Regions from separate parts of the Homo sapiens genome. Here region 1 is linked to region 2. Evidence: fine-mapped expression QTL. A gene starts in region 2. The other region holds a variant in brackets. All regions are shown on one strand. Distances are between the middles of the regions.

Region 1 (2,909 bases), 84 kb after region 2:
TGAGGTCATTTAAGCACACTAGATATCTCAATATCGCCACTGTAGTAATTTTAAAGTGAGTGACAGGCCCACAATTCCCAGGGATCTTCTGGTGTTTCAAGTTGATTGTGGCACCGACCTCTCTGATGTCCAGAACAAGCATTCTGTCTCCTGGCAAAGTCTTTTCTAAGGGAGGTGGCCTGAGTGTGGCTCTGCCCCTCCCCTCCTCCCTTCTGAGCTATGGATCTGCTTAGTGAGCATAATCAAGACCTCCTAGACGTTATCTGGAGTCTGAGTTCCCAGTGAGACATAACTGGAGGGTAAATGTGTCTGGCTGAGAACAGAATGGGAGGAATTGAGCCCTTGTTTAAAATTATCAGCTCTGGGTTAACCTATCTTTGTTTTCTGTCTTTAGACAACTGGGAGGATCTAGTTAAATTTCTGCAGATGGCCAGGAAAAAGGGCCGTGAGTCCTATATAGAGACTGAACTTATTTTTGCCTTGGCTAAAACCAGCCGTGTTTCTGAGCTAGAAGATTTTATTAATGGACCCAACAATGCCCACATCCAGCAGGTAGGCCATGCCCCCTGGGGGCTGTGCACTGCCAGTCAGATTTAGGTCCAGGGATGTTCCTCAGAGCAGCAGTCCCGAGCTGTTTTGGCACCAGGGACTGGTTTCATCGAAGACAGTTTTTCCACAGACAGGTCGGGGGTGGTTTGGGGATGATTCAAGTGCATTACATTTATTGTCCACTTTATTTCTACTGTTATCATATTGTAATATATAATGAAATAATTCTACAACTCACCATAATGTAGACTCAGTGGGAGCCCTGAGTTTATTTTCCTGCAACTAGATGGTCCCATCTGGGGATGATGGAGACAGTGACAGATCAGCAGGCATTAGGTTTTCATAAGAAGCATGCAACACAGATCCTCGCGTGTGCTGTTCACAATAGGGTTTGTGCTCTGTGAGAATCTAATGCTGCTGCTGATCTAACAGGAGGCGGAGCTCAGGCAGTAATGCAAGCAATGAGGAGCAGCTGTAAATACAGATGAAGCTTCACTCGCTTGCCTGCTGCTCACTTGCTGCTATGGGGCGTGATTCCTAACAGGCCACAGACCAGCAGCGGTCCGTGGCATGGGGGTTGGGGACCGCTGCTTTAGTGTGATGCAGATAAAGATCATGAGAAGCAAGCCACACGAGGAAGTAAGTAACCTGTTGCTATTATTGGTATGGAAATTGAGACCCATGGAATTTTGACATGCTCTTGGCTATACACATCAGAATAATTCTCCTAGAAGAGATGTGAAGACTTACATCCAGGCGTTCTGTTTACTACAAGAAAACAAAATTAATTGAGTCAGAGTTAATAATCTGGATGCATAAAATATATATTGAAAATTAATAGGCTGGGCATGGTGGCTCATGCCTGTAATCCCAGCACTTTGGGAGGATGAGGCGGGTGGATCACCTGAGGTCAGGAATTTGCGACCAACCTGGTCAACATGGCAAAACCCCGTCTCTACTAAAAATAACAAAATTATCCAGGCCTGGTGGCACACGCCTGTAGTCTCAGCTACTCAGAAGGCTGAGGCAGGAGAATCGCTTGAATCCGGGAGATGGAGGTTGCAGTGAGCCGAGATAGCACCACTACACTCCAGCCTGGGTGACAGAGCGAGACTCCGTCTCAAAAAAAAAAAAAAAAAAAAAAAA[T/AT]TAGTAGTTTATGTCACCAAAAATCAGATAACATAATGGGGAAGAAAACATTCCTTTTTTAATAGGAATAAAGCCAAAATGTTTAAATAAACCTTAACCATAAATAAAAGATCTAAATAATTGTGGAGTCCGCCATGTAGATAAGATGTTACCCTTGGAAAATGTGATGCAGAGACATGAAGAGATAATGGAATGTATTATAACTCTATATTAGTTACAAGTGCACTTCTTGGAGGAACGCATGCAATTTATTGAAATGAATAACAACAAAGTGGGCCGGGCACAGTGGCTCATGCCTGTAATCCCAGCACTTTGGGAGGCCGAAGTGCGAGAATCGTTTGGGCACAGGAGTTCAAGACCAGCCTGGGCAACATAATGAGACCCCCATCTCTAAAAAGGAAAAAGAAAAAAAATAACAAAATGAACTTTGAGCTTTTTATTTCAAAATAAGTTCCAAGTAGTTGTTGGGGCTGGGCACGGTGGCTCACACCTCTAATCCCAACTCTGGAGATAGAGGTGGAAAGATCACTTGAGCCCAGGAGTTCAAGACCAGCCTGGACAACATAGTGAGACCCCCATCTCTATCAAAAAACTAAAAAATATTAGCCGAGTGTGTGGCATGCACTTGTAATCACAGCTACTTGGAAGGCTGAAGTGGGAAGATCACCTGAGCCCAGGAGGTCAAGGCTGCAGTGAGCTGTGATCGGGGTGAGCTGTGATCGGGGCACTGCACTCCAGCCTAGGCAAAGAGCGAGACCCTGTCTTTAAAAAACAAACAAACAAAAAGAAAACAAGGGGGTGAAGGGCCTGTAATCTCAGCACTTTGGGAGGCCAAGGCAGGTGGATCACTTGAGGTCAGGAGTTCAAGACCAGCCCAGGCAAAATGGAGAAACCCCATCTCTACCAAAAATACAAAAATTAACCAGGCATTGTGGCACATCCTGTAGTCCCAGCTATTTGGGAGGCTGAGGTGGGAGACTCACTGGAGGCTGGGAAGTCAAGACTGTAATGAGCTGTGATTGTGCCACTGCACTCCAACCTGGGTGACGGAGTGAGAAGCCTGTGTCAAAAAAAAAAAAAACAATGGTTGGAAATTAAGTTAAAGTTTTGAAAGGTGTTAAAAGTTCATCATGTAATTCTGTAACCAAGTAAAATTCCAGATGAAAGAATTAAAGGTAAAAATTGAGCTTTTCCTTAAAATTTTTTAAAAATAT
Region 2 (2,909 bases):
GAGGCCACATGGATTTTAGAAAGGGCGGGCTGCAGAGGTCTTGGCTAATACTGGAAAAGAGATTTAATTTGAAAGTGAACAGTCTGTTCTATTCCTTAACATATTTTTGGCTACTAGATGGTCAAGCCATTGCGCAAATAATTGCACCATCCTTGTCTTATTCAAGGTGGGCCGTTCATTTCTTAAAATTACCAGTGAGCAACATGGGAAGCAGCAGAGACGGCTATCGATTACCCCGTAGGGAGTGCCTGTGCTGAATGCCAAGGGCTTCCCTTTCCTGACAGACATCTTTTATGCAGCTGAATCATCTGTATGCAAAACATCAGCCAACGGTGCCTCGGAAAAACAACTGGCTGCTGGGCAAACCAGGTGTGGGCTCCAGCTTCCACCTGCTACTACTGTCGTGCAGCCACGGGCACTCTGGGTGATCCTCACTGGCCTGGGGCTGGTCATCTGCTGCTAGATGACCTTCGCTGACTCTCTACATTGATATTCCGACACAGTGTTCTCTAGAAACCGCATGAGCCAGGAAAGGTGTTTCCTAAAGGAGCAGGGGCCGAGCCTCACGCCGAAACACGTCTGTAACACGTACAGTCACGCGTCCCATGCATCCATGCATTCTGAGACATGCGTCTCGGTTGTGGGATCATCACAAGGTAACTTACACAAACTCAGATGGCACAGCCACTACACAACTAGGCAGCTGATGCGGTCCGCTGCTGCTAGGCCGCAAACCCGCACCGCGTGTGAGGTGCGTTATTCCCCTGGCACGGTAATGACATACCTGTACGTGTATCTCCAAATACAGGAGAGGAAATGTCCTTAGCTAAGCCCTCACCAGAGGACAGGAAGTTTCCAGCTCCGTTATCATGTTATGGGACCACCGTCATATACACGGTCCTCCTCAGACCAAAAGGTCGTTCGTTATACGGCACATGTGGTTCTTCCAAGACCCTTTTCCATCTTTCTGTCACATCCGTGCCTGAGTAAAAAGTGGCCCTGAACTCAACCGTCCAGAGTTGGCGGCAGAACTAGCACCACTGGCCCGCTCCACATGTGGAAGGCGCTGGGCAAGGGCCGCCGCAGACCCCATCAGGATTAATCCCCCGAAAACCTTTCACTCGGGTAGCTGGCACACACCGCGTCAGGGCAGAGGGCGCGCGGGACTACTTTCCGCGGACCCTCGGAGCGGGCGGAGGGATCCGCGCAGGCGGGACGGGGCAGAGGCGGGGGCAGGGGCGGGGGCAGGGGCGGGGGCAGGGGCGGGGCAGAGGCGGGGCAGGGGCGGGGCAGGGGCGGGGGAAGGGGCGGGGAAAGGGGGTGCGGGCCGGGGCGCGGTCAGGGAGGAGGGCGGGGGCCAGGACCGGGAGCTCGGGGCACTGCGCCTGCGCCGTCGCCACCGGTCAGCCCGCGCGAGGGGTCGGCGTTCATTCCTGCCGCTGCCGCCGCCGCCGCCGAGGTCCCGCACCAGCCATGGCGCAGATCCTCCCTGTTCGCTTTCAGGAGCACTTCCAGGTGAGGCCCGGCGGGCTGGGGGGCTGCCCTGTCAGCCGCGCCTCCGCCGGGCCGGACTGCCAGGCTTGACCCCGCGCCCCCAGCCCCGCTGAGCCGCTGCCCAGCTGGCCGCGCCGATTTCCGACCTCCCACCTGGGCTGGGGCTGCGGCGTCCCGGGCGCGGCGGCCGCTCCTGAGGACCCGCTTGGGTGCCGTCGCCGAAGCCCGTTACCGGCGGGGCCGGCTGGGGAATGGTGGGGGTGGAAGCCAACGCCCCCTGGGACGCCCCGCTCAGTGCCCGCGAGGAGGCACACAAATTCCCGCTGCAGGCAGGGCAACCCAAGGGCCGCGCGGATCCCACAGCTCCACGCCCCTCCTTGGCGTCCTGCGGTCCTTATTCGCCCCTGAGTTTGCCTCTGTGATCGGTTTTCGTCCCCAGGGCGGCTTCGCCTGGGAGGACCGTGAACATGCGTGACCCAAGAGAAAAATTTCTCAGGGCCAAGCCTAAATAGGGCTTTTCAATGCAGTAACACCCCCAAAGCCTGCCTTTTTAATAAGGTCCCAGTTTGTTCTCCATTTGTTTGTGTTCAGAAACATAAGGACTGGCCCCCTGCTTTGAGCAAAGGCTCAGGTCGGGCGTCGTGCGGGCCGCTCGCGGGTCTGCCCGGGAGCGGTGCTGGTCCCCACGTTTACCCTGGGAGGTGCGGCAGAGGAGGGATAGCCAGCGGCTCCTCCCTGAGTGCTCTGTGTTAAATCATCACACTACCATTCGTTGCGATTCGCTTACTCTTTTCTAGATGAGGAAACCGAGTCTCAAAAGTGTTAAAGAACTCATCTTCATTCAATAAGAACAGGATTCAGACTCAAGTCTTTTTGACCACAAAGTAGTACATCGAGGAACGTGCTTGCTTGAAAGTTCCTATTTTCACAGTGCAGAGCACTGTTAGCCCTAGATGCAGACGGGAAAAGCCTTGGGAACTGTGTAGTGCAGTCCAGTCCCCTCATTCTGCAGACTGGAAACTTGATATCCAGGGGATCCTGCCAGGGTCACTTGGTTAGTGACACAGTGGAAGTTGTATGGAGGTGGGAGTGCCCTGACATCTGTCCGGGCTTCATTCTGCCACTAAGCTAAGCCAGCACCAGTCATGTTGAGGTAGCAAAATACTGCTGCTGCTCATAATAATGATGATGATGTAGTTATCATTTACTGAGCCGTTTCTCTTGCCACTCACTAGACTACTGTATTTTATAAATCTGGTTTAATTTAATCCTCATGATAACTGAGGCAGATAGTGATATCCTGTTTTCTACCATGGGTCACTGAGGTTAATATTCTAATTCCTTCAGCAAAAGTTACATGGCTAGTAAGTGACAAAGCTTGAGTTCTAACCCAGGTCTGATTCCAATGCCTGTGC

Which allele goes with the higher level. Alleles are on the strand shown, and positions count from the first base shown. SD is a standard deviation of normalised expression in the study named.
As copies of AT replace T in region 1, the expression in subcutaneous fat of the gene that starts at base 1,396 in region 2 goes up (large effect, 1.2 SD a copy in TwinsUK).

What was found. PIP is the estimated chance that this variant, and not a neighbour inherited with it, causes the effect.
Region 1: its variant is the best candidate, but not a certain one, in a credible set for the expression of CLTCL1 in subcutaneous fat (TwinsUK, PIP 0.55).

Annotation. Positions count from the first base shown.
Region 1 is chr22:19,205,797-19,208,705 of GRCh38, reverse strand. CLTCL1 (clathrin heavy chain like 1) reads left to right here. Exons shown (of 33, transcript NM_007098.4): 22 at 395-552. Among named protein-coding and RNA genes, the nearest start is that of SLC25A1, 29 kb to the right of the region's middle. The variant T/AT (reference allele first, on the strand shown) is at 1,696.
Region 2 is chr22:19,290,206-19,293,114 of GRCh38, reverse strand. CLTCL1 (clathrin heavy chain like 1) reads left to right here and starts at 1,396. Exons shown (of 33, transcript NM_007098.4): 1 at 1,396-1,515. The coding sequence starts at 1,474. It overlaps LOC105372859 (a long non-coding RNA gene), which reads right to left and starts at 1,168. Exons shown (of 6, transcript XR_938002.3): 1 at 785-1,168. RefSeq lists silencers at 1,278-1,517, 1,399-1,583 and an enhancer at 1,694-2,207.